3 separate regions of the Homo sapiens genome follow, and all the other regions are linked to region 1. The links come from fine-mapping of genetic effects on gene expression. A gene starts in region 1. Each other region holds a variant in brackets. All regions are shown on one strand. Distances are from middle to middle.

The links. PIP is the estimated chance that this variant, and not a neighbour inherited with it, causes the effect.
Region 2: its variant is fine-mapped to the expression of CCNDBP1 in whole blood (TOPMed, PIP 0.99).
Region 3: its variant is fine-mapped to the expression of CCNDBP1 in whole blood (TOPMed, PIP 0.98).

What each region holds. Positions count from the first base shown.
Region 1 is chr15:43,178,015-43,188,476 of GRCh38, reverse strand. It overlaps CCNDBP1 (cyclin D1 binding protein 1), which reads right to left and starts at 3,074. Exons shown (of 11, transcript NM_012142.5): 1 at 2,870-3,074; 2 at 2,598-2,657; 3 at 2,244-2,323. The coding sequence starts at 2,978. It overlaps TMEM62 (transmembrane protein 62), which reads right to left. Exons shown (of 14, transcript NM_024956.4): 12 at 9,766-9,870; 13 at 7,178-7,296; 14 at 3,333-4,217. The coding sequence ends at 3,891. LOC124903478 (a long non-coding RNA gene) reads left to right here and starts at 2,590. Exons shown (of 2, transcript XR_007064604.1): 1 at 2,590-2,708; 2 at 8,539-8,762. RefSeq lists an enhancer at 2,469-2,568 and silencers at 2,739-2,828, 3,049-3,348.
Region 2 is chr15:43,229,086-43,239,547 of GRCh38, reverse strand. It overlaps TGM5 (transglutaminase 5), which reads left to right. Exons shown (of 13, transcript NM_201631.4): 8 at 282-385; 9 at 492-731; 10 at 3,711-4,079; 11 at 4,619-4,779; 12 at 5,861-5,994; 13 at 6,204-6,958. The coding sequence ends at 6,357. Among named protein-coding and RNA genes, the nearest start is that of EPB42, 13 kb to the right of the region's middle. The variant T/C (reference allele first, on the strand shown) is at 4,510.
Region 3 is chr15:42,780,292-42,790,753 of GRCh38, reverse strand. TTBK2 (tau tubulin kinase 2) reads left to right here. Exons shown (of 15, transcript NM_173500.4): 11 at 7,119-7,335. Among named protein-coding and RNA genes, the nearest start is that of TTBK2-AS1, 46 kb to the right of the region's middle. The variant A/G (reference allele first, on the strand shown) is at 4,690.

The sequences.
Region 1 (10,462 bases):
CTCTATAAGGGCAGAGTTGGGTAGTTGGTTACAAAATCTAAAATATTTACTAACTGGCCCTTTACAGAAAAGAGAGGGAGGGAGAGAGACAGACAGACCAACTGACAGACCATGGTTATTAAACCATTAACCAGGTCTCTCTCTTTTTTTAACAGAATCAGAATATGTAACTAAAGGTAACTAGCATGGACTCGACAATGCTCCATGTTAACTATTTTCCTTCTAGGTGGTCACTGGCTTTCTCATCTTCCTTGTCCTCAATTTTCTGTTAAATTCTAAGTCAATACTATACAAATGTGGTCCAGGTTGGAGCCAGTCTACAAACTGTTTGTGACCAGTCAGGGATGAGATAAGCAGTGACTGAGAGTGTTTAGAAACTTTTATGGCAATTTGACATTTATTCAACATCCGAGCACATAATTTTATTAAAGTATCATTCCATACAGATTGGAATTTAAAAAACAACAACAACAACAAAAAAAAACCAACAACCACCCATCTTTTAGTAGGACTAAAGTGGTGAGATCTCAAGAAGGCAATGATGATTCATGTGTATGTATGTGTGTATATACACACATATATACATATATGTATTTATTTGAATATATGTATATACTTGAATATTTGTATATATTTCAAATAAATCCAAATTCTAACTTTTCATCTATGAGTGAAACTACTGTCCTGAGCATGTATAGAAAATCAGTTCTATGCTGCCTCCTTGTGGTATCTTACTTGCAGTGAGTTTTAGCAGCAAGTCCTAAGTGCATTTGAAAGAAAGGGGTTAGCAGATAAGAAAAATAAGGTAATATTAACTACTCTTTTTGAAATAAGTATTTTCCATGAATCTTTTGAAGTGCTCTCATACAATTCATCTCTTGTTTCCTCATCACAAATCTCAAAGGTAGGCCAGGCACGGTGGCTCACACCTGTAATCCCAACACTGTGGGAGGCCAAGGCAGGCGGATCACTTGAGGTCAGGAGTTCGAGACTAGCCTGCCCAACATGGTGAAACCCCGTCTCAACTAAAAATACAAAAATTAGCCAGGCGTGGTGACAGGTGCCTGTAATCCCAGCTACTCGAGAGGCTGAGGCAGGAGAACTGCTTGAACCCGGTAGGCAGAGGATGCAGTGAGCCCAGACTGTGCCACTGCACTCCAGCCTGAGTGACAGAGAGAGACTCTGTCTCAAAAAAAAAAAAAAAATCTCAAAGGTATGTAGGAGGAGAGAGTTTATCACTGTAGGTACATGCAGCAGAAGATATTTATATCCTTTCCAAACACCTATATATGTAGACTGAAAAATTAAAACAATTGACTATGAAAATCAAATAAGGCAATGAATATGCCATTTTAAAAGAATCTTACTCCTATATTAAGCATACACAACTCTAGAAAAACTGAGCATAGAGCATACGTGGTCATAGCCAACATGTTTACTTTCATTAGTTTTATAATAAAGGAATATTTAAAATGCATAAATCTTTGTTCTAGCAATTCTACTTCCGGGAATTTTTTCTACCAATATACACACATACACAGAATTAGGTAATTCATCACGACACTGTTTGCAGTAATTCTAAGTTGGAAGGTCCAGAACAGTGTTTATGTATCATTTGTGTAAAAAGAAGCTGACACATACAGATAAATGTATATGAATGTATATATGCACAGAATATACGTGGAATAATGCAAAAGGAACTGGGGGAGACAAAAATGAGAAAGTGGGTGGAAAGGTAAACTTAACACACTTTGATATCTGTTGAATTTTGTACTATCTACATATGTTACTGATTAAATATAAAAAATAATATAAAAAGGGTATTATGCAGTATAACAGAATAGGTAGCTTAGACATCAGATAGACCTTGATTTAAATTCTAGCCCCCCTGCTTTTTTTTAAATCTTAAGCTGAGCTTCTGAGCCTCCTTGCTCATCTGTCAGATGGCCATCAAGTATGTGAAAACACCCAGCAAATAAAAAGTGCTTAAAAAATTATCAGAAGGGAAACAACCAGGATAAACTTCAGACTGAACCAATATTTATAAGACCTGCCTACTCCGCGCCAGGAACTGCACTTGGCAATTCGGTCTTCACAACAATCCTGTGAAGTAAAAACGGTAACCTCACTGGACAGATGAAGAAAAGAAATCTCCTGGCGTGCGTGCAAAAGGTGGAAAGAAAATTAGAGGATTCCTAAGGTGTAACTCGGCAGCCCAAGGATTCCACGAAAGTGAAGCCCACCTGTGGAGACGGCAGTGGAAGCTGAGAGAAGACTATGGTCAGAGTCGTGGCTTCCCTTGACACAGTCACAGCTGCCTCATCTGGGGGGTGGCCGAAGAGGAGGCAGGTGCCAATACGTTAGTGCTGCACGGACTTGGAAGACTTCCCTTACCGACCGAGACTTCTCAAAAACACTTCCCGAATGTCGAGGTTAGAATTCTATTTCACCCTCTCAGGTGCTGAGGTGGGTAAGGTACCTCACAGAAAGGATGCAGCGGGGGAGAGCAGTCCCCTCCGTGGGGGACAGCGGGAGGAAAAGGGGTCGGGACGCTGGAGGAACTGAGGCAAGGGGAGCCCGGAAGGAGGCGCACTCACTGAGTCTTCTCCAGAACATCTCTCGATTAAACTCCTCGGTGGTCTCCTGGGCTTCGCCGACTTGTGGGTGTGGCGTGTGGGGGCCGAACGGTGGCGAATGGAAAAGCTGAGGTAAGCGGAGCCACCTCCCTCGCCCAAGCCCGGCTCCCCGCCGCCGCCCCAGCCCGCCCTCTCCGCGACCCCGAGCCCGGCCTCTCCCCGACCCCGAGCCCGGCCTCTCCCCGACCCCGAGCCCGCCCCTGCCGTCGCCCGTTCTAACTCCGTCAGCTCACCCCGCACTCGAGGCAGGAGCAACCGCAGCTCCTCCGCCAAGTGCCGGAGCTGCTCCAAAGGCGAAGCCAGGGTGGGGACTGCGGCTGCAGGTGCAGTTGCGCTCGCCATCTCAGTCGCTTGCCGAAGGCCGCAAACACAGGCCTCCGCTGCCACTGCCGGAGCCGCACTGCGACAGCCGCTCCACTTCCGGGCCACAGCGTCAAGGGCTCGTTTCCGTCAACAAGCCGTCCAGCCCCGTCCCAGAGGCCCTGCCCTGCCTCCTCCCGCCACGAGGCCCGGCCCCGCCCGAGGTCCAGCACCACCCATCCCGTTATCAGAGACCAGGCCTGGCCCCGCCTCCTCCCGCCCCGCCCTGTCCCCTGAGGTACAGCACCAACCATCCCACTCTCAGAGGCCAGGACAGGCCACGCCTTCTCTTGCCCCTTAGGCCAGGCTACACAAGCAAGCCTCAGGCTCACCGTCTTTCTTATTCATCATTCATTCATTTATTTGATTAGTTGAAAACACTTCCGACTAAGGAAGCAGAGAGCCCACAATCCTGTGGGAAAACAGGCCTGGGAACTAATATCTCAGGGGTAGTGAGGGTCGGGCCCAGATCCTCAAAGGTTCCCTGCCCCTGAAATTGCACCTTTGACAGCTGCTGAATTCCAAGCACAGCGGTAAGTGCTTTACATGGGGTAACCCTAAAAAACACACTGGGCCTCAGACACTCCCGTACACACACCCAACCTCTACCCTGTGGATGTCCTAGATAAGGGTTTTCTCTTCACAAAGGTAAATCAACTCTTTGCCTCCTTAGGGAGGGAAGGAATAAAGGCATTATTTTTGAGACTTTTCTGCAGTCCATTCTGCAGGTATCAGTAGTGGGTAATCCCTCCAACGTCCAGGACTCCAAACGAGCAGCTGCTCCCTAAAGCTCACCCACCAATCCTGGCCCTCCACCTGCTACTGGGGTAGAGGCCTGGGCTACAGACACAGAGGCTGGGCTTCTGCCCAGCTGCCAGTGGTGAGACATGGCCTTCAGGAGCTCAGGTGGCTTTTTAACTGCACCATGAAGATTCCAAACTTGGTGGAGTTCAGTGTCCACACATAACGAATGAGAACAGGTGTCAGCAGTGTCAACCAGGTCCGCAAAGGGGAGAATAAAAAAGCTAGGGTGCCGTATGTTGCATAAAGAAAGTAGCAGGAATAAACCTGCCAGATGTACAGCAGTAGCATAAGTAGGTGAACAGGCATAATTTTCAAGTATTTTCTTTGATGGAGATGAGACCTGAAGTTGTGACCAAAGCACCGCTGCAGCAAGCTCCAACACATGTAAGCCATCAAGGGGATGTTAAAAAACGCCAGCTGGAAAAGAACAGAACCATAGCTTACTCCCAAGTCCTTGGAAGAGTTTGGTCTTAATAATGCATTATTAGTGGATCCTAAGACTATGCTGCTATCTGTCTTGGCGTTAGCTAATTTACTTCAAGCACAGTTGCTTATAACACAACAGCTGACTTGTGGCTAGTTGTGTATTTGCCCATGTCCTTTTATTCATCTTAGAGGCAGGTATCATTTAATTTATGCTGAAGTCCCAACTTGTAGTACAGTATCATATACACAGTTAATACCCAATGGTGTTAAGCTGGAATTGAACTGAGTAAATGTATACACACACATACAACAACCCCTCTTTTTTGGTGGAGTGAGGGGAGGACTTGGCTATCAGTATTTTTTTTCTTACCTCCATTTTTGTTTGAGGTAGCATGATAAGTACTGGAATATAAATTAGAGTATCTAAATTATAATCCAAGTTGAGCTGCTGTATGATTCATTCATTTAACAAATATTTATTGAGCACCCATTATGTAGCAGGCATGAGCTAGGCTCCAAGTTGGGGACACAATGGCAAACAAGTTAGAAAAGGTCCGTCATAGAGCTTACATTCTAACAGGGAGAAGACAGACAAAAAAAAAAACCAAAAAATATAATTACAGATCGTGATTAGTTCAATGAAGGAAAGAACTGGGTCATGAGAAGGTAACTGGGAGAAAGGCTCTCAGAGGCCAGAAGGACAAGAATGAATCAGCGGAGGGAAGTGCATTCTAGGCAGAAGGAACAAATGAAAAGCCCAGAGGTGGGAGAGGTCTTGGCCTCTTTAAGGAAGTGCATGCAGAGCATGAGCCAGGTGGAAATTGGGGCAGTCGGCAGGACCCAGATCACTGCTCTGCTTCAAAGCATTTCAAGCTGAAAAGTAAGTGAGCTGATTGTAAAGTTTTTAAAAGAGCACACTGGATGCTCTGTATTAAGCTGAGAGTAAGGAGGCAAGAATATCAGGGAGAAGACCCAGGCAAGAAATAATTACAACTTAGATTAGGAAAACAGAAATGGAGAGAAGTGGATGGATTCAAGATATGCATTGGAAGCAGATCAAATAAGGTAGAGCTTGCTGGTGAAATAGATACAGGGTATGAAGGAAAGGGAATAATTGAGGATACATCTTGGAGAAATCAGGTGAATGGTGGAGTCATTTATTAAAACTGGAAAAACAGAGAGGAACAGGTTTGGGGTGGAAATAATGTTCCTATCAGAGAGACATCACATGAAGTTGAGATGCCTGTTAGACATCTGTGGCCATTGGATATAGAGGCACTTGAAGTGCAGAGAAGAGGTCTAGATCAGAGATATAGATTTGGGATTCATGGGTCTGGATGATACATAAAATCCATTATTAGTGTACTATTTATTAGAATATGAATGTAAACATTTACAAAGGAAAAAACCCTGCCTTTTGGTAAGGCTCAGGATTCATTTGGTATGAGAGAGCTCCTTAGAGACAGCCTCCATCAACATAATAGAAAACTGCAATGAGGCTGGGTGCAGTGGCTCACGCCTGTAATCCCAGCACTTTGGGAGGCCGAGACGGGCGGATCACCTGAGGTCAGGAGTTCGAGACCATCCTGGCCAACACAGTGAAACCCTGTCTCTACTAAAAATACAAAAATTAGCCGGGCATGGTGGCAGGCACCTGTAACCCCAGCTACATGGGAGGCTGAGGCAGGAGAATCACTTGAATTAGGGAGGCAGAGGTTGCAGTGAGCCGAGACGATGCCATTGCACTCCAGCCTGGACGACAAGATCGAGACTCCATCTCAAAAAAAAAAAAAAAAAGAAAAGAAAAGAAAAGAAAACTGAAATGAACCCAGGACCTACTCATGTATATAATGCTGCTATGCAGAGAATATTCTGGACTTGGGTCAGTGTTTGCTAGGCAGAAGTCTTTCCTACTTGGCTGTCTCTAATCCTGTTGGATCATGTTCTACTGCCCTGTTAGAAGGCCATGAACTTATTTTGAATGTTTTTGGATCTCTTCCAAAACTTCAAATTTTGGTCCACTAACTCCATTAGGTGAGTAAAATAAAGAAACTGTTAGATAAATACTTTTCAAATCTGTTTATGTAGTTTTTCTATGGATCAAGGTTCTTTGTGTGTTTATTTTAAAGGAATCAAATGTAAACCTAATACATCAGTTTGTTTCCTAAACAAGTACATTGCTAGGAAAGCCCAGGTCTGGTTTTTGAATAATGCAGTTTCCACTGAATAACTGACCCATTTTTTTAATGTGTCTATTTTTTAGTTTCCTCCCTCTAAAATATTTTCCTTCTTCATCATCATAATCAGTTTTGGTTTACTCAGAAATCTAAAACTTTTTCTACCATAATCCCTTGTTTCATTTTTTTGTCAATGAAAAAGCACAGTGAAACAAAAACAACAAAAACTTCTTTCACCTCTTATAAACACTTCATGACAAAAATGTATTTTAGGCTAGGCATGGTGGCTCACGCCTATAATCCTAGCACTTTCGGAGGCCAAGGCAGGTGAATCATCTGAGGTCAGGAGTTCGAGACCAGCCTGGCCAACATGGTGAAACCCTGTCTCTACTAAAAGTGCAAAAATTAGCCAGGCATGGTGGCACATGCCTGTAATCCCAGCTACCCAGGAGGCTGAGGCAGGAAAATCGCTGGAACCCAAGAGGTGGAGGCTGCAGTGAGCCAAGATTGCACCACTGTGCTTCAGCCTGGGCGACAGCAGAACACTGTCTTGGGGAAAAAAAAATGTATTTTAGATGTTTACATGAGAGTGGTGGAAGGAGTTTAGGAAGCACTTTAAAAGCAAATGAAGCTTTTATTAAAGACTGCCCTGCAAGTAAAGTAGGAAAGATGATCTATGGTACTTAATTCTGGATTTTGGATTTAATTCATAACTGTTATGCAATTAGTCTGACAAGTCCAAGATGTTCTTAAATTGCTTTTCTGACTTCTTACCTGGAGAATTCCAATTATAAATGTTATGCTGCCTTGTAGGAAATGTCCATTAACAAATATCCCAAAGGAAAAGCAGCAACCAAATTTGCCATCAATGATTTCACCAAAAAACCATGGACCTAAAAGAGGCAATGGACAAAAAAGGAGGAGATTAAATAACTATAATTCTGATTACATATATCATGAGATACATTTATAGGAATAAAGCAGAGATATGAGACTAGCCATCTATAAGCATTTTATTTCATAGCCTTCCCTCTTTGCTAGTCTCTGTGTTGTACTTGATATCCTTGCTAACCAACTATTTTTTGGATTGTGAAATTGTCTTAGTAGACACTATACCTAGAACAGATATGTGTCTTATAGATTCTAGAAACAAAAAAAGCACACTCACATTTTTGAAAATTCCATTGCAATAATAACCTCAATATAATGCATTAACATTTCCTTTAAGATGTAAAGAGGTATTCCACAGAAGTTAAATTTCCAGATGATTGAGATTTACTCCTTAAAGCAAAAAAACTTCAACTACTTTTTGAAAGAAATCTTTCTAAGATGCACTCGTTAATATAATGAATGTATTTTAACCTCTTCTTGAAGGCCCACAGTCATTACTTTGTATATCAACTACATAATCACGGTTACCATGTAGAAAGTTTAACTTGCTTCAGTTTTCTCATCTGGAATGCCATGCTGACTTTTCTATCCTCCCTATTATTATTTACTGCCCCATTCTCAGTGTGTGAGTTTCTAGGTATTATTATTATTATTATTGTCATTTTGTCTTGTAAGTGTGCTGGTCTCCATAAGAGTGTCAAGTTGTTTGTCAAGAGTGATAAGGGACAGTTAGATTTCCGTTTGCAAAATGCAAATACTAGGCCAGGCAGGGTGGCTCATGCCTATAATCCCAGCACTTTGGGAGGCCAAGGCCGGCAGATCACCTGAGGTCAGGAGTTCAAGACCAGCCTGGCCAACATGGTGAAATCCTGTCTGTACTAAAAATACAAAAATTAGTCAGGTGTGGTGGCACATGCCTGTAATGCCAGCTAGTCGGGAGGCTGAGGTAGGAGAATTGTTTGAACCCAGGAGGCAGAGGCTGCAGTGAGCCAAGATTGCACCACTGTACTCCAGCCTGGGCAACAAAGCAAGACTACATCTCAAAAAAAAAATGCAAATACCATCATTTGCTGGCAAGAATAGGGTTCAGCTTTAAAAAGTCAGAGGCAATTTTCTCAGATATACTTTATATAAACTGCATTAAAGACATATGAGTCTAAAAAGGTGTTTTGTCTTCAGATTTCAACTTTCTGAATGGAACAATTCTTCCCTATTAATGTATTTTGTTTTGTTTTGTTTTACAGCCCAGGAACCAAATTACTTGCTTTACCTCATTGTGTAAGACAAGCGTCAAAAACAGCTTCAACCTATCTTGAACAAGAGAACTTACCTCCAAAGGTGATCTGCCATAGCTTACACAGAATCATAAAGTGTTATATTTTCATTTGTTCTCTGGTGGGAGTTACTAATGAGCAAAGTGCAAAGGGAGGATAAAAGTGTAAAATAAAGACTAAGACTAGGCAACAAATAGGCTAATGTACTCCTAATTGACTTTTAGTCACTAAGAAACATAAGCAAAAAAGCCTAAAAGATTTATGGTGATTTCTGCTTTTATAAGTGTGGCTAAGTGACTTTATAAGTACAGTCATGCATTGCTTCACCATGAGGATGCATTCTGAGAGATGTGTCCTTAGGCAATTTTGTCCTTACATATCATACACAAACCTACATGATATAGTCTATTATATACCTCCAGCTCCACTAGAGTCTTATGGGACCACCACTGTATATGTGGTCCCTTGTTGACTGAAATGTTTGTCATATGCCACATGATACTACTGGGTATAATAATACAACAGAAGAGTGCAGATATGCCTGAACTATTGCTCATCTCAGTTTCTCTCTTTTTTGAGCTGAATTTTTGAGAGCCACACATTAGTAAATATTCAATGAACTACATACTAAGCAAAATAGGCAAAATACCAATGGATAGATATATATACTTTTTTTTTAGATGGCGTCTTGCTGTGTTGCCCAGGCTGGATTTGACCTCCTGGACTCAAGCAGTACTCTCGCCTCAGCCCCCAAGTAGCTGGAACTACAGGCATGAGCCACCGTACCCGCCTACCAGTGAATATTTTAATGAGTTAATAGATAATAAACACAGAAGATAGGTATAAATTCTGATAAAGGTAATGATGGAAGTAAAACCTGTGATGAGATATAGACTAAAACTTTAAGATAGACAAAGAAGGTTGCTCTGAGGAGGTGCTATTTAAGCTTCTATTAGGTTTCTACACAAATACTAATTCTGTAGCAGTCTTCTCAGCACCCTTAAGTTAACTTGGTGTTAACTAAATGTCCTTTAAACATGTTAGGCACGAGCTTTATTTTCCAAAACCATGTCCCAGAAAATGATTTATGAAGAATCCATGAGCCATTTGTTATACCCTCAAGAGTCTAATTCTATTGTCAAAATTGTTAATATATTCTTTGGCAAAATTCCCCATAATCTGTACTAATTTACTTACCCAGCACTGTATACAGGGTCAACAACAACACAGAATAGTAGAAGATGTTTATTTTGCTCAAGACATGAAGAGAAAATGAGGTCAGATTTATAAACCCTGAAGGTTCTAAAAAACATAAAGTTGAAAAACCCAGTGAACACATGCAAAGTTCAGTTTCTTTATGACATTTTCTAGAAGATTTTCATGGGCTATCTACCATATATTCAGCAAATCCTTTGTTAGATGGTAACTATACAGATGACACCACTTTAAATTCAGAATTTGGCAGGAATCCTGGTGAGACAGTTCACTTAGAATTGCAAAAGGCAGAGAGTTCGAAGAAATGGTGTAGTTGTGAGATATTTTATATATATCATAAGATACATAATTGTTATATATATCACAATATATCGAACTCATATATATATGCACATATATGTACATATACATATATATATAATAACTGAAAGCAATGGACACACCTACCAGAGCACCATACTATTTTATCTTTATATAGGTTTGAAAGATAGTGGTTTGTTCAAAGGATGATCAAGTCTCTGTTTTCTATGGAATTTAGTGTCCAAATGTACAAACTTCAAAAAGGTATATCAAAATACTTCAAAAGTAAATTAAAAGAAATATCAAAATATCTTCATTCTAATCATAAATATGAGTATCTGTCCAAATATGGTCCTTTCCTATACATTATACAGTTCTT
Region 2 (10,462 bases), 51 kb before region 1:
CCATGATGCCTAGTTAATTTTTTTTTTTTTTTGAGACGAGATCTTCCTTTTTTGCCCAGGTTAATCTTGAACTCCTGAGCTCAAGCAATCCTCTCACCTCAGACTCCCAAAGTACTAAGATTACTGGCATGAGCCATCGTGCCTGGCTATCCACAGAGGTTTTAAGCCCTGTGTGTGCTAAGTCTGTCTTTCTATCCAACAGTTCATTTGCTCATCCCTCCCTTGCCTTGTTCTAGAAAGACCAAGCAGTACAACGTCTCCCTTGGCTCTGTTTGACACAGGAACTTCCATGTCTGGAATGAGTGCTGGATGGCCCGGAAGGATCTGCCCCCTGCATATGGAGGCTGGCAGGTGCTGGACGCCACACCTCAGGAGATGAGCAACGGTGAGGCTCTCCAGAAGAAAGGCAGGCCCCGCTCCCGTGGAAAGCACCCCACCCCTGCCCAGCCCTGCAACAAACAGCCCACCGAGGCTCCCCTGTTCTCCTTCAGGCGTCTACTGCTGTGGCCCTGCCTCTGTCAGAGCCATCAAAGAAGGAGAAGTGGACCTGAACTATGACACGCCCTTTGTGTTTTCGATGGTGAATGCTGACTGCATGTCCTGGCTCGTCCAGGGAGGGAAGGAGCAGAAGCTTCACCAGGACACGAGTTCTGTTGGCAATTTTATCAGCACAAAGAGCATCCAGAGTGACGAGCGGGATGACATCACAGAGAACTACAAGTATGAAGAAGGTAAGTAAGCAAGCCAGCCCTACTCAGAGCCCCAGCCCTGCAGGAACCTTCCCCTACCCCAGGGAGCCAGAGAGCATCTGCGAGGCAGGACCCAGCCCCACTGTCTCCTCAGCTGTTCAGTTTTGAGGCCCCAGTTGGGGTGGCCTCACAGCCTCACTTCTTCATGACACCCCCACCCCACATCCTGCAGGCCAGCGAGCTCCCGCCACAAGGCGCTGACATGGACCGTGGAGCCCAAACAGAATATGAATACTTCACCCCTGCTTCCCCCTAAAATCAGCCTCCCACTGAAGATGGCAGGGAATTTAGTAAACACTCTGCCATTCATTTATTTTATTTAGGGTATTATTTAATTCACTGTGTTTCACTGAGTCTTTGGAGGACAGGCTGAAGTGAGCCCAGATGTTCACTCCCACCACTCCTCCCTGTGGGAACGGCACGGCCAGAGGCTGACTCTGAGGTGACAGCCCTGGCAGCAGGGTCACAGGGGAGGCTGTGTTAGTCAGCTATAGATGAATGCCTGGACATTGAGAAGCGCCAGCCACTAGGTTCAATTACCAGGGAGCCAGGCAAAAATATCCAGTCCATGAGGGCCAGAGGCAGGGTGAGGGCCAGAGCTGGGATCTGGCTGGGGAGGATCTGAGCAGGTGCAAGGCAGGGTGGCTGAAGGGCGGTGGGGAGGGCTGAGCAGTTGCTGGGAGTGCTGGTGAGTGGGTGTCTGTGGTTCGTCTACGTGGGCCTCGGGGACAGACGCAGGGAGGCTCCAGAATTCCCCACCTGGGAAGGGGATTTGCAGTAGGGGGCAAGTGTTGAACACAGCCCAGCAGTGCCATCACCACCCACTCCCTGGGGCCTCCGGCCTCATCTTGGCTGGGCTGCCCCAGAAATGGATCCTGAGGCAAGCATTCAAATACAGGTGGTTTATTTTTTAGGCTATCCTGGAAATCCTGGAGCAGAGTGAGGGAGACAGGGAAGGGAAGGAAGTGGATGTAAGAGTACATTTTCAAGCCTGTTAGCACAGTGACAGCTGGCTGGGAGCTCTGGAAGTGGGGTTGTCAGAGAAAATAAAGGACAAATAATGCTTTAGCATAAATTTGTCCCAGGCCAGGAGCTGTAAGCTCACACCTGCAATCCCAACACTTTGGGAGGCTGAGACGGGAGGATCACTTTAGCCTCAGAATTTGAGGCTGCAGTGAACTATGATGGCAACACTGCACTCCAGCCTAGGCAATAGAGTGAGACCTCATTTCTAAACAAAAAAAAAAAAGGCTGTCCCAAATTATTTGTTGTTTATTTGAAATTCAAATTAAATTGCCTTGTATTTTTGTTTGCTAAATCTGGCAACCCTATCACTGATTCGGTGTGAAGTGTAGAACAATACTGCTGATTTATCACACCAGAGAGTCACAGGGGCTAGGGTGTTTATCCATCAACTCCTGTTGGTCATGAGTTGAGGGCTGTTCCTGGGGGATGTAAATTCTTTAGCACTTCTGGCCTGCCCCATGCATGAGCTGAGTCTGCTCTGGTAGCAGAGAAAACCTCAGACAGAGTTGCAGGGGCTGCAATTTGAAAAGTAGGGCCTGTGGACACTGAAATGGCAAGTGCCAAGGGAATATGGGCAGGGCTTTGATGGCATTTGCTAGAGAGGCCCACGGGGTCCCCTGTGGACTCAGGGGGATTGGAGCCATACCCGAGTGGACCTGAGTGTCCTGCTTAGGTGCTCCTCAGGCCAGCAGTATTCAGTCTTCTCCCACCCAGCCTGACAGGGTCTGGGGTCGCACAGACCGCAGATGCGCTAAATCAGATTCCCATCTTCCTGGGCCCACTCTTTTTTTTTTTTTTTTTTTTGAGACAGAGTCTTGCTCTGTCACCTAGGCTGGAGGGCAACAGCATGATCTCCGCTCACTGCAACCTCTGCTTCCTGGGTTCAAGCAATTCTCCTGTCTCAGCCTCCCAAGTAGCTGGGATTATAGGTGCCTGCCACCATGCCTGGCTAAATTTTTTGTATTTTTAGTAGAAACAGGGTTTCACCATGTTGGTCAGGCTGGTCTCGAACTCCAGACCTCAAGTAATCCACCCTCCTTGGCCTCCCAAAGTGGTGGGATTACAGGTGTGAGCCACTGCCCTCAGCCTGTGGGCCCACTCTTACTGAAGCAAATGTCTCCAGATTCTCTTTTGTCTGGAACTGGCCTTAGAATGAACCCCAGAGCAAGGGGATAAAAGTGGCCTCTGCCTCAGGAAGTTGTGGCAAATGCATTGAAGGGGTAGAGCTGGTCCCTGGGGATAGTAAGTACTCAACAAAAGCAGCTTCTGGAATTATGAGGCGTGGGCAAGTATTCCTGCACATGCGGCCCACAGGGACCCCCAGGATAGAGCAGGGAAGCTGGGGCCACCCTGGGAACTCTGCACGCCTAGACCTCCTCTCATATGTATTTACTTATTTACTGTGCTTCTCCTTTCCCTTAGTTTCCAGGAATTAGTCTATGCCTGACCAATAATCTGGCTCTGGAACAGGACATCACACCATGCCCTGCTGTCTTTATGAGGTTTATTTCTCTGCATTTGTGGGCCTTCATCTTTCCCTTGAGGAGATCAGGATAGAGTTGAGCGGTCACAGGCACGGGTTTTAGAGTTGGGCAGGTTTGCTTCCCACCTGGGATCTGCTCCTTACTAGTTGTGTGACTTGGGCAGGTGACATGACTTCCATTAGCCTCCTTTTCTTTATCTGTGTATGGAAGAAGAAGAAGAAGAAGAATGCTAATGGTAATACACCTTGCTTGTGGTTGATACAGGAGGAAGGGTGTGAAGTGGCCAGCAGAGCCTGCCTGGGAAAGCACATGAGGAGTGGAGGGAGTGCTTGTTACTGGGAGTGAAGGCCTGAAGTTGTTGGTGGAGATATTGGGTGGGGGATGGCGCTCAGCCTCAGTCTACCCCGGTCAGCCTGGCTCACAGCTGGTGCTGTGCTCTCCCCAACTTCAGGATCCCTCCAGGAGAGGCAGGTGTTTCTGAAGGCTCTGCAGAAGCTGAAGGCTAGAAGCTTCCATGGCTCCCAAAGAGGAGCAGAGTTGCAACCTTCCAGGCCCACATCACTGAGCCAGGACAGCCCTCGGAGCCTGCATACACCTTCCCTTCGACCCAGTGATGTGGTGCAAGTCTCCCTGAAATTCAAGCTGCTCGACCCGCCCAACATGGGCCAGGATATATGCTTTGTCCTGCTGGCCCTCAACATGTCCTCCCAGTTCAAGGACCTCAAAGTGAACCTGAGTGCCCAGTCTCTGCTGCACGATGGCAGCCCCCTGTCCCCATTCTGGCAGGACACAGCGTTCATCACACTCTCTCCTAAAGAAGGTACGCATGTGCACAGTTTGTGTACGCAGAGTTGGTTTTGGCAATGTCAGTGGGGTCAAGCCAGCCAACAGGGTTCTGGGGGCAGACCCCTGAGACACCATCATTTCTACTGTCCCCTCTGGCACGATTCCCCTCCTTCCCTCTTCTCCTTCCCCCTTCCTTCCTTCCTTCCTTCCCTCCCTCCCTCCTTCCCTCCCTCCCTCTCTTCCTTCCTTCGTTGTATCTCCTCTCTCCCTCCTTTCTCTTCCTCCTCCTTTCCTACCACAACAAAAGTAGCTGGTTTTGCAGAAAAAGCCTGAGATTTGGAGTCTCTGAGACCTTCGTTGGAGCCTCAGCTCTCCCATTTCCTAGCAGAATGGCCTTGGGCAGCCATTTTGGCTCTTTTCAGCTCATTTCCTCATCTAAAAAGCTGCCACCTGCTTCCCTGGGA[T/C]TTGGTACTTGTTGACTTTCTCTTCTCTGTGGAAGAGAGACCCAGGTCCAACCCAGGTACGGCTGATTTTCTCAGCTACTCTCACCCCATCCTTGTGTTCTTTCTTTAGCAAAGACCTACCCCTGCAAAATCTCCTATTCCCAGTACAGCCAGTACCTGTCAACAGACAAGCTGATCCGCATCAGTGCCCTGGGTGAAGAGAAAAGCAGTCCTGAGAAAATCCTGGTGAACAAGATCATCACCTTATCTTATCCAAGCATCACGATTAATGTAGGCAGGAGTCCTGCAAATGGCTTGTGGGGCTCCTTGGATCTGGCGGGGAGGGGGTGAAGCCCTGTGAGAGGGCAGCCTGGGCCTGCTTAGGAGAGCATCCCCTCCTTCCTTTGCCTCTTCTGGTGCTCCAGGAGGGAGAAGTTTGTCTGAGAGATCTTCATCCTCTTGCACCACTCACTAGAGGCCCTATGGATGGGTCCTTGAGCAGGTGCCATGGACAATAGGAGAGACCCCCCTCTTGTGCCCCTCCTGCTGTTGGCCTTCCCCATGGGTCAACATAAGGAAAGTGAGCACAGATGGGAGGGTCTCTGGTCGGGGGAGAGCCCTGTCTGAAAGTCAGTTCAGACTTGATTTGCCATTTTTTGGCTGTGTATCCTTGGACAGGGCCTTGGGCCTCTGTTTCTTGAACTGTTAGAGAGGGGATTAGGCTAGATGGCCTCTGAGGACCCCGCCTGCTCTGACATTCTGCGGTCTTCCAAGTGGGAAGATTTTAAGGTCTCCCTTCCTTCCCGTGCTGTCTCCCCAAAGTCAACCAGCCTCCTAGACCCTGTTAAGTAAGCCCATGGAGCCCCTTCCGGTGGGGAAACATGAAGGTTTGGCTAGAACTTGGGCTTTTGTGGCATCTTAGCAAAGAAGCAATATGTTTTTAGAGAAGTGACAAGAGAAAAGGAAAGGACCTTGAGTCTCAAGGGGTGGCAAATTTTGGGAAGGCAAATACATGGGAAACTCATGGTAGATAAAACTTAGAAAGTTTGTTGTGTAGATTCCTCTGGTGCCCTCTCCAGGCTCGTAAAGGTCTGAAGGCATCTCTGGTGATCAGCCTTTGTCCTTCCTGGTAGAGAGGGGAGGGGGGACACCTTTGTAAATTTATGTCCTGCTTTTAGGCAAATAAAGGGAAACTAGAGAGCTTTTCTTATATCTGCTTCTTCTCAATTGTCTTCGGCTCAAAGAATTCTTATGCCAAAGTGGCATATTTGGAGGTGGCATATCCTGCCACCTTACAGAATGGTGCCCTTCGTAAATATCTGGTGAGTTGGGGAATGAGAACTAATTCTCCTTCCCCTCCTGGTCTGTTTAGGTTCTAGGAGCAGCCGTTGTGAACCAGCCACTCTCCATACAGGTGATATTTTCAAACCCCCTCTCGGAGCAGGTTGAGGACTGTGTGCTGACTGTGGAAGGAAGTGGCCTCTTCAAGAAACAGCAGAAAGTCTTGTAAGTGCTGCAAGTGCTCAGCCTTCTCCTGTTTTTCCCCCCTGAGATTAGCACTATCCTTCCTGAACATGGGTTCCTGAGCCAGACTCCACAACACCGGGGAAGGGAAAGTGGAAGCACTCCCTCCCACTCAGGAAGCTGGGTGGAAAAGGGCTCCAGGGTCATTATCATGCTTTTGGTTTTCTGACATGCTCCATTCTCTGTTGCAGCCTTGGAGTCCTCAAACCCCAACACCAAGCAAGCATCATTCTGGAGACCGTCCCCTTCAAGAGTGGACAAAGGCAGATCCAAGCTAATATGAGAAGCAACAAGTTTAAGGACATTAAGGGTTACAGGAATGTTTATGTAGACTTTGCATTATAAATTCTGGAACAACGCGCCAGACGTGTGAATTTCAAGCTTCAGGAAAAGGAGCAAGTTCAAATGCAAGCTGCGCCATTCCCCACCACAACAGAGGCTTCACAGGGCTCCAGCAAGAGCCACAGAGGGGATGACGTGTTCATTTTCTGTCTCTCCTGACTCCACTAGAAATTTAAGCTCCATGAGGGCAAAGACTTTGCTTTGTTTACTACCCCTATACTCAGAACCATTTCTGGCATATGCTAGGCACTCAACAAATATTTTTTGAATGAATGAATAGGAGACTCCAGCATCCAGAGAACAGGTAGGAAATGTCTATGGATGGATATTTCCCTGGACCATTTGCACAGCTCCCCTGGACTCTTTTCAGGGCCCAGGGATTCCACTGTGTCCCATCCAGAGATTCCAGGATTCCAGTCTCCTATCCAGAAGCGTGATTTGGCACAGAGGTCAGAGGATACTGGTAGGACTTGGCCATGACTTAACTGCCCCCTGCCCCAGATATCCAGGAAAGAAAAAGACAGGCTGAACAGCTCACTGTTGTTTTGTTGTTGCGAAAGCTAATTCCCTAGTATGAATAAACTTCAGACCTTGCTCTCCTTTGCCTCATGTAGTCATCACTTTCCTATCTGTTCCTTGGATGCTGCAGTCTCCATTCATTCAAAAAAGTATTTATTGAGTGCCTAGCATATGCCAGAAGTGGTTCTGAGTGTAGGGGTACAAAGTAAACAAAGCAAAGTCCCTGCCCTCATGGAGCTTACATTTCTAGTGGAGGCAGGGGACATAGACAATGAACACGTCCACAAATAAGTGAGATACTCACAGGTGGTGTATCAGCCATGATCCAGCTAGAAAAAACAAAAACTCACAGGTGTTTCTACTTACTACCTACCATCTTTGTGTCTTGGGGGGAAAAAAAAGTCTGGGAGACCTTTCACCCTTGGCCTTCCTTTGAATCCTTTCCCATATGACATCTAAGAGGTCCCTCAGTCCTAACAGTACCAGCCTATTCACTCAAAACTCACTGACGCACTGTGGTCCTGGATGGCCTTGGGTTGGCTGGGGAGATAAAGCTGGCTGAATAACACAATGAGGTAGACTTTGAGTGGGAAATGGAATACTCTCAGAGTTTTCTATTAGTTGCAGCCTGTGTTTATGGTCATGCAAACTCCACGCTTTCTGGGTCCTACTGAACACAAAAAAATTCTGATCATTATCTCCTCTTGTGGCACTGCACAAAGTTCTGCACAAAGAAAGGCATGATGCACTTGCTCTCTCAGTACTGACTATATGACTGAGACAGCTGTCCTATCAAATACACACACAGTAAATAAAGAAGATGAAGACTTCCAGGCCGGGCGCGGTGGCTCACGCCTGTAATCCCAGCACTTTGGGAGGCCGAGGCGGGCGGATCACGAGGTCAGGAGATCGAGACCATCCCAGCTAAAACGGTGAAACCCCGTCTCTACTAAAAATACAAAAAATTAGCCGGGCGTAGTGGCGGGCGCCTGTAGTCCCAGCTACTTGGGAGGCTGAGGCAGGAGAATGGCGTGAACCCGGGAGGCGGAGCTTGCAGTGAGCCGAGATCCCGCCACTGCACTCCAGCCTGGGCGACAGAGCGAGACTCCGTCTCAAAAAAAAAAAAAAAAAAAAGACTTCCAGTATGTATAAACCAAAGGTATGTGTAGTTAATCAGTGGGATAGAAGGGCATGTGGCAAGAATTAGGGAAAGTAGGGAAATAGTCCTGTGAGAGAGTGGGCTGAGAACCAGGAGCTACTGGCAGGGAGCTGGAAGTAACTTAAAATTATTTCATCTTATAATTATTACCTGACAATCATGAGAAATAGTTTAAGGAAAACACCAGAGAGAGAAACATCTTATAGACACAATGACCTCTGAAGCACATGGAAGATTTCAGGAACTGCACCCTAGGACTCTTTAATGAGTCCTGATTTTAACACCACATTCATTAATTCTTTGATTCAACAAAAATTTACTGAGTTTCTACTAGGGGCCAGGCCCTGAGCCAGGTAGGCCCTAAGGACACAAGAAGGACCAGGGCCTGCACTCAAGGAGCTCAAGTCTAAGGATGTGGAGAATGAAAAATAAACAGGAGGTTATAACACAGAGTGGTGAGATCCACCACTGGGGTAAACCAGGGTGTTGTGGGAGCACAAGGAGGGCCAGCTAGTCCAGCCTTGGGATATTGGTTCAAGGAAGGCTTCCTGGAGGAAGTGGTATTTAAGTGGAGCCCTAAAAGCTAGTGGTTGGTCAAAGACTAGGAATTGGAAGGAGAGGGAGTGGAATAAAGCAGCCAGGAACTGCAAGTCATTCAGATGGCCAGAGGTCAGAATGGGAGGGAGCAAGAAGCAGGAAAGAAATGAGGCAAGAGCCAGGGGGTGAAGAGCTTCAGGCCGCAGTCTAAGGAATTTGGGTCACAATCATCTTCAGGCATCTGCCTCCTCTAAGTCTTGGATCACAATCACTTCCTGCAGTGTCAGTGCTCAGGGCCGATTCCACTTTGCAGAGCTGAGCAGACTTCATGTGACTTAAGAAGCACTTAAAGGACAAATAGTTCTCCACCCTTGTCTGCCATAGGAGCTTGCAATTCCCATCAGAGTCACTTCTTTGAGCGCAAAGGCCTTCCTTAAATGCAAAGGTTGTCTTTCATCCGTTCGTTTAACATTTTTTGAGTTCCTAATGTGCTGAGTGTTCTAGGTGTAGGGAATAGACCAATAAACACGGCAAATAAGGTTCTCCCCAACCCATTCCCAATGGACAACCTCACAGCCCCTCATCCCCCAACCCCAGTGGAACTCAGTATAATTTTCTTCTGACAACGCTCAGCTCAGCTCCAGGCAAAAAGGGTTTTTGAAGAAATTTCTTTTTCCTTATTGTGTGTAGCCTTGGTCGATCTGCCAGTGAAGAAGCCCTGCCCGCCCATGGCCAAGAGGTGGGCATGTGACTTATGCTGGGACAATCAGACACTTCTCCCAGGACTTTGACTGCAGAGTGAAGTGGGTTAGAAAAGGGAGAAACTTGGAGTCCATCCATCTTGGCAGCAGAGACCCAGAGACAGACCAGCCTCTGTTCCTGCTGCCTAGTCACTCGAGCTGCCCTGGAGTCCATCCTTCTCCTAGTCCTGGCTCTCCTTTTCCCCATCAATCTACGAGCTCCTTCATACTCTTGTTTTTTTAAGTTGACCAACACTAGTTTTGGCTTTGCTTGCATTCAAAGGACAATCATGAGACAAAAGGACTTTATCTAGTTCAGAGAAATTGGGTAATTTGTTTAAGACCACACAGCAAAGTCTGTCTGATTCCAAATTCCCCCCATGTCACACTGCCCAGTACTCCCATAGGTCTGCCCTTGGGTCCTAAAGGTGTCTTTGTTAGTGTCATAAGTTAGCCTGAAGTTCAAGGAAGTGTCAGAAGCTCTCATTCACCCCAACCTGGTGAATAACTGGAGAGCTGGGAGCTGGCTGTGTGGAAAGGGCAGGCAGCAACAAGAGCTACACTTTGTTTCCCAGAGCTCGCTCCTCCTTTAGTCCCTGGCCCTCCAAGGCCCACTGTTCAGTTTTTCTTCCCCACCACTTGCCCACTGACCAGCAGCCAACCAACCAATGAGCAGCTGGTACCACTTCTCTACCTGTCCCTGAGACCTGACTTCCCAGTATCCAGGAGCCACTTGGTGCCAGTTTTGGGGCTGCTGCTTTTTCAGGAGTACAGACAAAAAGAATTTGATTGCAGAGTGCTGATCTCAGATATACCCAGCTTTCCTCCAACCCCAGAGGATAGGCTTGGCTTCAGACTCCATGAGAGCCTGGAGCTTCCTGAGGGGAGGCAGGCCACGTGCCTGGTATAGCAAGTGTTAGCAGAAGGTCTGAGCTGGGATGCTGAATGAATCTGTGGGAATGTGAGAAAGAACTCTGTGAACATAGATAATGTTAGGCTCTGGATAATGCTAATATCCTCCAGAGAATGTTCTTTCTGGTAGGAAGTTAGGATAGTGGGAGAGTGCCATAATGGAGATTTATTTAAAACCAGGCTTCAGCTTTTTTTTTTTTTTGAAGCAGAGTTTCGCTCTTGCTGCCCAGGCTGGAATGCA
Region 3 (10,462 bases), 400 kb after region 1:
CATTCCAGCCTGGGCAACAACGTGAGACTCCGTCACAAAACAAACAAACAAAAACTCACAGAGAACTAAGAGCATTTAAAAAGGTTTATGTCCAAAGATAAGCATTAGAACAAAAAGGCAAAACTTCTGAAATACCCACCCCCCAAATTATTTATAAATTAAAGTACGGGCCAGGCACAGTGGCTCATGCCTGTAATTCCAGCACTTTGGGAGGCCAAGGTGGACAGATCACTTTGAGCTCAGGAGTTTGAGACCATCCTGGGCAACATGGTGAAACCCTGTCTCTACAAAAAATACAAAAATTAGCTGGGTGTGGTGTTGTGCACCTATAGTCCCAGCTACTCCGAAGGCTGAGGCTGGAGAATGGCTTGAGTCCAGGAAATGGAGGTTGCAGTGACCTGAGATCGCGCCACTATACTCCACCCTGGGCAGCAGAGTGAGATCCTGACTCAAAAAAAAAAAAAATAGACAAAGAATACATCTTGTAGAGGAAGAAATATAGCAAGTATAGCAAGATACTGTGCACATAATAATAAAATACTATGACAAAGCTTTCCTCCTATGTTCTCTTCTAGGAGTTTTATAGTCTCAGGTCTTAACATATAGGTCTTTTATACATTTTTAGTTGATTTTTGTGTATTGTGTAAAATAGGGGTCCAATTCCTTTGCACGTGGAAATCCAGTTTTTCCGGCACCATTTATTGAAGAGCACCATTTATTGGATCCCACTGTGTCCTTTTGGTGCCCTTGTTGAAAATTAGTTGACCAAATAAGGTATCTGCACTCTCGTGTTCACTGCAGCAGTATTTACCATAGCCGAGATACAGGAACAACCTAAATACCCACTGATGGACAAATTGATAAAGAAAATGTATATGTGTGTGTGTGTGTGTGTGTGTATTGTATGTATTTGTATATATATATGCACACACAATGGAATATAGATGATGTATAAATACTTACACACACACACATAATGGACTATTATTCAGCTTTTTATTTTTCTATATTTATTTTTTTGAGACTGATTCTTGCCCTGTTGCTCAGGCTGGAGTGCAATGACATGATCTCTGCTCACTGCAACCTCCGCCTCCTGGATTCAAGGGATTCTCCTGCCTCAGACTCCTGAGTAGCTGGGATTACAGGCCTGCGTCACCACAGCTGGCTAATTTTTGTATTTTTATTAGATATGGGGTTTCACCATGTTTACCAGGCTGGTCTCGAACTCCTGACCTCAGGTGATCCACCTGCCTCAACCTCCCAAAGTGCTGGGATTACAGGCATGAGCCGCTACACCCGACCTTATTCAGCTTTTAAAAAGAAGGAGATCCTATCATTTGCCACAGCATAGGTGGAACTAAAAGACATGCTTAGTGAAATAAGCCAGACAGAAATAAAAATGTTGCATGATCTCATTTATATGTGAACAAAAAACATATATATATATATACACACACACACGTATATATATTTTAAAGCACTCAAATACACAGAGATTGAGAATGATACAGTGGTTACCACAGGGGGTTCAAGGAGGGAGGAAGGAAAGGAAATGGGGAGATGTAGGTCAAAGGATATAAAATAGCAGATATGTGGGATGAACAAGTGTGGAGATCTAATGGACAGCATAAGGAATAACCTTTATAAAATTGTATTTTCAGAAGTCTTGGACATAAATAAAAATAAAATTGTATTAGAGATTTTTGTTAAATAAGTAGATTTTAGCTGCTCTTTGTCACAAAAAAAGTAACTGTGAGTTGATAGGTTAATCTGCTTCCCTGTAATGACCATTTTACTGTCTATGTATATCCTATTACATCATGTTACAAAGCTCAAATACAATTTAAGGAAGTAAAATACTACAGCAGACTTAAGACCAAACACATCAGTCACAGCAATAAATATACATGGGGTTAACTCACCTATTAAAAGGAAAACATTTTCAGTTTGGGTTATATAGCTATATTCATATGCTGTGTATAAGAGACACACACCTAAAAAAAGTAAGAAAGAGATGGACAAAGATATATCAGAAAGATAGAAAAGAGAAGTGATCCTAATAACAGATGATGTAGAATTCAAGCCAAAACAAAAAACTTAGAAAAGATGGAAGGGCACTTTTTAATGCCAAATGCCACAATTCACAAGTGGGATACAAAATTTATTAATATTTAGTCACCAGAATCATGACACTCACCTTTGGGAAACAACAACTGCAGGATATTCAAGGAGACATAAAAACACACTCATAGTTGGAGATGTTAATGTACCACCCTCAGTTTAAGACAGATCAAGTGAACAGAGAATAGGAAGATAGAAGACTTAAACAGCGTGATCGTAGTAAGGTAGATCATATGTATGTTTTCTGAACTCTATACCTTGATGATAGAGACTATACCTCCTGCCCAGGGGCCCCTGGAACATTCACAAAAATTGATCAGGTATTAGGTCACAAACAAACATGTAAGTAGTTCCATAAAGTAGAAGTATTACATTATCTGATCACACTGCAAGAAAACTAGAAATTACCAACAAAATTAAAATATCAAAGGCCCTTTTACTGGAAATTTAAGAACCTATTAAACTACAGTCATGTGCCGTGTAATGACATCGCAATCAGTGATACACCGCATATATGACAGTGGTCCTATAAGATTACAATACTGTAGTTTTACTCTACCTTTTCTATGTTTAGATAATGTTATAATACCCAAATACTTAACCATTGTGTTACACTTGCCTCCAGTATTCAGAACAGTGACATGCTGTACAGGTTTGTAACCTAGGAGCAATAGGTTATACCATATAGCCTAGGCACGTAATAGGCTATACAATATAGTTTTTTTAAGTACGCTGTGATCATTTGGATAATGATGAAATTGCTTAACGATGGCATTTGTTAGAATGTATCCCCGTTGTTAAGCGATACATGACTGTACTCTTGGGTGAAAAGGAAAATAAAAACTAAAAGTTATAGAAAAAAATGATAATGTAAACACTACTTATCAGAATCTATGAGATAACTTTAGAACAAAGATCAGAGGAAAACCTATGGCATTAAACAAGGAGGTACATAATGTCAGTATGTCTCATTACTGATGATACTTATGTTGACAATTTGGTTACAGTGGCCAGTTCTTTCTACTATAAAGTTACTGTTTTTCTCTTTGTAAGAAATAATCTTGTGGGAAGATATTTGCAACTATGTCAGCACTGTGTTTCTTGTCATACTTTTCCTATTAATTGTAGCATCCATCAGTGAATCTTGCCCACAGGCCTAACCATTACTGTCTGCCCTCTAAGAAAAAGTTTGCCAACTTCTGATTTTTTTCTGTTTGCAAATGATATGGTAGAATACCTGGAGAATCAGTGTTAAAGAGAAAAATTTATAGTGTATGTCCCAGAACCCTGAATTTCTTCGTAGAGGGAGAATGAAAGTTTAGAAGGTAAGAGGACGCTTTAAATCATGAGCCAGCAAGCTTTATCTATAAAGGGTCAGATAAATATCTGTGAGCTATGCTGTCTCTGTCACTACTGTCATTGCTGTTATAGTGCAAAAGCTGCCATGGCCAACGTGTAAACAGACGAGACTGACTGTGTTCCAATAAGTCTATTAAAAAAAAATAGGTAAGCAGGCCAGATTTGGCCCACAAGCACTAGTTTGCCTTAGATTATGGGGAATGAAATATGAAAAGGATATTCGTTCTTACTATTTTTTCTCATATCTCTTCAGTTCTTCCACACATTTTCTTACTTATTCCCTTAATCTGCTTCAGTTATATAATACCTTGCCTGGAAACACAGACCATGTGCTAATAACACTCTTATGTATACTTTCTCACTCATTCATATTCCTGAACATGATATAATTTTCCTGGGAAGGAATTATTTCTTTCCATATTGCATACTCAAGATTTGGATCAGAGTTTAGGAAAAGAAACAATAACCAGGGAAGGAGAAAGGAATGGAGAATAAATGCAGAGGGAGGGTCTGGGTGGGAGAGGAACCTGAGTCCTATAAAAGAGAGCCTGTGTGGAGAAGATGGACGAGGTCCTTGGAGTGTGTGGTATCATATTGAAGCATAAGAGATAAGAGAAAAAGTAGGATTGAATGAAAGTAGAAGTGTATTCAGAGATGGAGGTGTGGTTTGTTTCCTGAGGTGTGAAAGAAGGAAATGCAAAGGAATTGAGGTAGTTGGAAAAAAAGCAGAATAGTGGCTAGACATAAGGGAAAAAGGGACTTGAAAGAATACTGAGTGATTAAAATGGAAAAAAGGTGACGATAATAGACTAAGCTTCTTGAGTTCAAATATTCATCTATTTCCCTTTCTCTTTCCTCAGGAATAGAGGGAATTCTTTCAATAAACATTTGGATTACCATGTAGTACATGTATGTTAGTGTCCATTATGACTCTTTTATCAATAAATAAATTATATTGAACTAATATCTGAAAAATCTGTTAGTAGCCAGTTTATTTCTGATCTTTAATTATCTCTATAATAAATCTGAACTATTGATTTGAACTATTTGAACTATTTTAGGCCAAACTACCTTTTAAATATGCTTCCACTGTCAGAACTACAGATACTACTTTACTAGGTTGTAAGTTTTTTTTTTTTTCTTTCTTTTTTTTCGGGGAGCCATTATCAGTGCTTTTCTAGATTATATCCTTGTAAATTGTTGATAAAG[A/G]GGTTCATTCTAGCATTGATCCATTTAGGCAAAGGTAGTGGTGAAGGTCATCGGTTACCAAGTCAGGTGGAACAAGTCCCTGAAAAATCACTGGTCTTCTCAGAGCATATGAAATACTCGTGACACCAGTGCCAGGATCTAACTGTGACCCTTAAAGTGGCTCACTGAGAGGATGTTGCCACTCACAGTAATTACAGGAGTCAGTATAATGTACTGAAGACTAATTTTTCTACTTTGAGACATTCCAGGTCACTTCTAAGAGGAGGTTTCATTGTGTGCTAAGTATTGTGTTCAGTCAGCAATATTTAAAAAAAAAAAAAAAAACCCTAGAATATAGAGTTACAGAACTGGCAGGAGCCTTTTCACTTGGTGAAGGAAAACTGTGAACTAGAAAAGCCTCTCATGGGAGGGTCTAAGGGAGCGATGACCAACCATATAAATAAGACCTGGAATTACTTTGAAAGAAATATATAGACAAATACCAATTAATATTTGCTATTTTTTCCCCCAGGTCAGTTCATGCTGAACTATATCAACTGTATAATTACAGAAAGTCTAGTTTCCCCTCTAGGGCAAGAATTTCCTTCCTCTTTGTGTTGCTAGGGCCTTGCATGTAGTAGGTGCTTAGTAAAAAGTCTGCAAGTGGCCGGGCACGATGGCTCACACCTGTAATCCCAGCACTTTGGGAGGCCAAGGTGGGTGGATCACTTGGGGCCAGGAGTTCGAGACCAGCCTGGCCAACATGGCAAAACCCCATCTCTACTAAAAATATAAAAAATTAGCTGGGCATGGTGGTGCATGCCTGTAATCCTAGCTATTTGGGAGGCCGAGGCAGGAGAATCGCTTGAACCCCGGGGGCGGAGGTTGCAGTGAGCAGAGATTATGCCACTGCACCCCAGCCTGAGAGACAGAGCTTGACTCTGTCTCAAAAAAAAAAAAAAAAAAAAAATCTGCAAGTGAAAAAGTAATACACATTTCACACTGTAAAAAAATAACATAGCTGATTGATCTGACACCTGTTTATTTCATTATGGCACTGCGAAAGTTGATTATACAAATTAGGTCATTCTTGTCATAGTCAACTAAATCAATCAAGAGGCCAGGGAGAAAGTACTTGGGGCACATAGCACCTGCTCCAAGAATTTAATTTCTTACAAGCCCAGCTGCTGAAATGGCCTGCTGTGACTCCAAGACTAAATTTACATACCTCTGTCACTCACCAGTCAGAGCCTGCCAGCTCCCAAAAGCTTCTCTGATGCCAATGAACTTTCTTTCAAAACAGTATATGACATCTCTCTAATAAAACCCCCAACCTCTCCTTTGGTCTTTAGATATACCAGAGACCCACTCAGTCTATGTGTGTGCCCCAAATTGTCATTCTTGCTTCCCAAATGGAATGTTAATTTGGAGATTCATCTCTGTATTTTATTTGGAGTTCAACAGCACTTAACATTTTCCTGTTTAGAATTTTTAAAAATTCTCTAACACGCCGGGTGCCGTGGCTCACACCTGTAATCCCAGCACTTTGGTAGGCCAAGGCAGGCAGATCACCTGAGGTCAGGAGTTTGAGACCACCCTGCCCAACATGGCGAAACCCTGTCTCTACTAAAAATACAAAAAATAGCCCAGTGTGGTGGTGGGCGCCTGTAATCCCAGCTACTCAGGAGGCTGAGGCAGGAGAATCGCTTGAATCCGAGAGGTGGAGGTTTCAGTGAGCCGAGATCGCGTCACTGCACTCCAGCCTGGGCGACAAGAGTGAAACTCTGTCTCAAAAAAAGAAAAAAAATGTTGTTATAATTGACAGAGACTTCTATGAAAATAGATGAAATGCTTTTTACTTTTAAAGTGATTGTCAAATTAGGGTGTTATTGTTTTAGATTTTGTATTTTAAAATCAGCTTGAAAATTCTAATTGATCAAAATTTTAAAGTTTTATTTCGTAGGATTGGCATGACCTAAGTTTTTTTTTTCTTTTTCTTTTGTTTTTGTTTTGTTTTGTTTTTTGAGCTGGAGTCTCGCTCTGTCACCCAGGCTGGAGTGCAGTGGCGCAATCTTGGCTCACTGTAACCTCCGCCTTCTAGATTCAAGCAATTCTCCTGCCTCAGCCTCATAAGTAGCTGGGATTACAGGTGCCCACCACCACGCCCAGCTAATTTTTGTATTTTTAGTAGAGACAGGGTTTCACCATGTTGGCCAGGCTGGTCTTGAACTCCTGACCTCAAGTGATCTGACTGCCTCAGCCTCCCAAAATGCTGGGATTACAGGCATAAGCCACCATGCCCGGCCAACCTAAGTTTTCAAGGTGCTTTTTTTTTTTTTTTAACTCTCTTAATTATGTGTGGAGTTCATTTAAATGAAGAAATAAAATGATGTAAGATAGTCTCATAGTAATTTTTGATTCTTGCCTTTTTTTTCTCCCTTCATATGTAGAATTGCCAATGCTACTCCCATCCCTGGAGACTTGCTTCGAGAAAATACAGATGAGGTATTTCCAGATGAACAGCTTAGCGATGGAGAAAATGGCATCCCTGTTGGTGTGTCACCAGATAAATTGCCTGGATCTCTGGGACACCCCCGTCCCCAGGAGAAGGATGTTTGGGAAGAGATGGATGCCAACAAAAACAAGATAAAGCTTGGAATTTGTAAGGTATGAGTACCTTATAAACAACAGAAATTTATTTCTTACAGTTCAGAAGGCTGGGAAGTCCAAGAAGGAAGGCTAGGCAGATTTGGTATCTGGTGAGGGCTGTTTTGTGGCTCCTCCTTGCTGAGTCCTCATGTGGTAGATGGGGAAAGGGATCTCTTTTGGGCCTCTTTTGTAAGGACACCACTCTCATTCATGAGGGCTCTGCCTTCTTGACCTAATTACCTCCCAAGGGGCCCACCTCCTAATACCCTCACATTGGGAGTTAGAATTTCAACATGTGAATTTTGGGGGGACACAAACATTCAGACTATAGCAGGTGTATATGTTCAGTCATGGGAGTCATTTGCAAAATGATCTCTGGATCGATGTGATATGCCACAATGTGATTTGGCTGTTGACAAAGCACAATCTGGATGAATAGTAATCAGGAATGAGTAGTGGAAAGTAGACAGGGAGTCAGTGTCAGATTTTTCTAGTATCAGCTGTGGCTGTCTTTATGGCACCAGGAACAAACTGTTCTTATAGCAAAAAAAAAATCACTAGTGACATTCTCAGTTGTCAGCCCATATGGATATCCGTGTATGCGAGAGAATGAAGTGGCGCTTGACATGGAAGATCTTAGTTATTTTGGTTTCTGTCTTTTACTCACTATCACTATTTAATCTCAGTGAAATTTGAATGGTAGATAGTTTTGACCCTAAGTCCATTATTTGTCATCATGGTGATGTGCAGTTTATTGAATTTATAATGTATAGTGCTGTACATTACAAGCTCTCATTTTGAACATCTGGATAAAGCATTAAGCTAAATATTGAAGACAATTTACTAAGCTATGTGCTGTGCAGTTTAAGATACATCTTTTACCTTTAAGGAGCTTACGGTCTCTTTGGGTAGATATGTAGCTGCACAAGCAAATATAATACAAGACAGAACATTGTGCAAAACATTTAAAAAAATTAAAATGCATGCAGATGGGGTGGGAGTTGGGAACATGTCTTATGGAAGAAGTGGTTGAAGTAGAAGTATAAGTAAAAATATGTACATGAGGGCCAGGCATGGTGGCTCACACCTGTAATCCTAGCACTTTGGGAGGCCAAGGTGGGCGGATCACCTGAAGTCAGGAGTTCAAGACCAGCCTGGCCAACATGGTGAAACCCTGTCTCTACTAAAAATACAAAAATTAGCAGGGTTTGGTGGTGGGTGCCTGTAATCCCAGCTACTTGGGAAGCTGAGGCAGGAGAATCGCTTGAACCTGAGAGGTGGAGGTTGCAGTGAGCCAAGATCATGCCACTGCACTCCAGCCTGGATGACAGAGTGAAACTCCACCTCAAAAAATATATATACATATATACATGAAAAAGTGCATGGATAGAGCTTATAACTTTAGGAATTTATTGGTCATCTAGGAGAAAAATTCAAAACAGCTATATTTATCTTTTAAAATCTACTTATACTATATATAAAAGATTTCATATATATCATGTCAAAGCATAGTAATATAAGCATGTGAATCCACCATCTGCCCTAAGAACTAGAATATTTTAACATATTCCTTCTATATTTATGCTTCTACCCTATCCCCACTGAGGTAACCGCTGTCTTAGGTTAGATTCCATAAAAGCAGAGCTACAAAACAAACCTTAATAAGTTTAAATAATTGAAATCACACATACTATGTTCTCTAAAAATATTGGAGTTAATCTAGTAATCAGTGACATAAAGACAACAGGAAAATCTCTAAACACTTGGAAATTATACAGCATATTTCTGTATAATCCATGGGTCAGAGAGGAAGCCTTAAAGGAAAATTTTTTAAATTTACATAGAATTGAATGAAATCGAAACCACAACATATCAAAATGTTGGGGAGGTAGCTAAAGCAGTACTGAGAGAGAAATGTATAGCACTAAATACTTACATTAGGAAAGATAAGGTTTTACATCAATAGTCTAAATCCTACCTCAAGAAAGTAGAAAAAGAAGCAGCAGAATAAGCTAAGACAAGCAGAAAGAAGGTAATGAATATCTCTGTTACTGTATTGCAAAAGTTTTGGTGTGTTGTATTTTTATTCTCATTCTGTTCTGAATATTTTTCCGTAATGATTTTTTTCATCCATGAGTTAAGTGCATACAAGTTTAGAGTTTTTACATCTGCCAGGTGATTAAAAGTTTTGTTTTTCTTTATATAATGACTATTTCTATTCTGTTCCTACTATTTTTTTTTTCTAGCATTAAAGCCTATTTTGTCAGATGTTAATACAGTTATGCCAACTTTCTTTTGGGTAGTACATGCCTGGTGTATCTTTTTTCTGCCTTTATCTTTCTATTTTTTCTCATTCTGTTGTGACTGTTGTTAAGTGGAGTATAAGTGGACAATCTTACGTCTTTATGTTTTAATTAGTCAGCTTAATTGATTTACATTTAGAATTATTATTGTATTTGTGTATTTATTTTCTGAGACAGAGTCTCGCTCTGTCACCCAGTCTGGAGTGCAGTGACATGATCTCGGCTCACTGCAACCTCTGCCTCCCGGGTTCAAGTGATTCTCCTACCTCAGCCTCCCAAGTAGCTGAAATTACAGGCACCCGCCACCACGCTTGGCTAATTTTTGTACTTTTAGTAGAGAGGGTTTTGCCATATTGGCCAGGATGGTCTCGAACTCCTGACCTGAGGTGATTTGTCCGCCTCAGCCTCCCAAAGTGGTAGGATTACAGGCACAAGCCACGACGCCCAGCCAAATTATTTTTATATGAACTTGTTTCTCTTTTAAATTTCTATTCAGTTTTTTAATGCCTTTTTCCTGCCTTTCTTTTCATTACAGATTTTGTTGGTATTTTTCATCTTCTGTTTTCTCTTTGTACTTACTGGGGATTTAAACATTCTAATTCTGTTCTCTTGGTAGTTGTCCTGGAAATTTCCCAGTTATTTTTAACTTAAAAGTCTAAAATTAAGCAATATCCTAACTACCTTTCTGATACTGCAAGGACTGTAGAACATTTTAACTTCATTCACCCTTCTCCCAACATTTTAGTACTCTTCTAATTTTAATTCTTTCTTTTAAAAAAAAAAAAAGAAAAAGAATGACTTGCCCTGGCACAGTGGCTCACACCCATAATCCCAGCACTTTG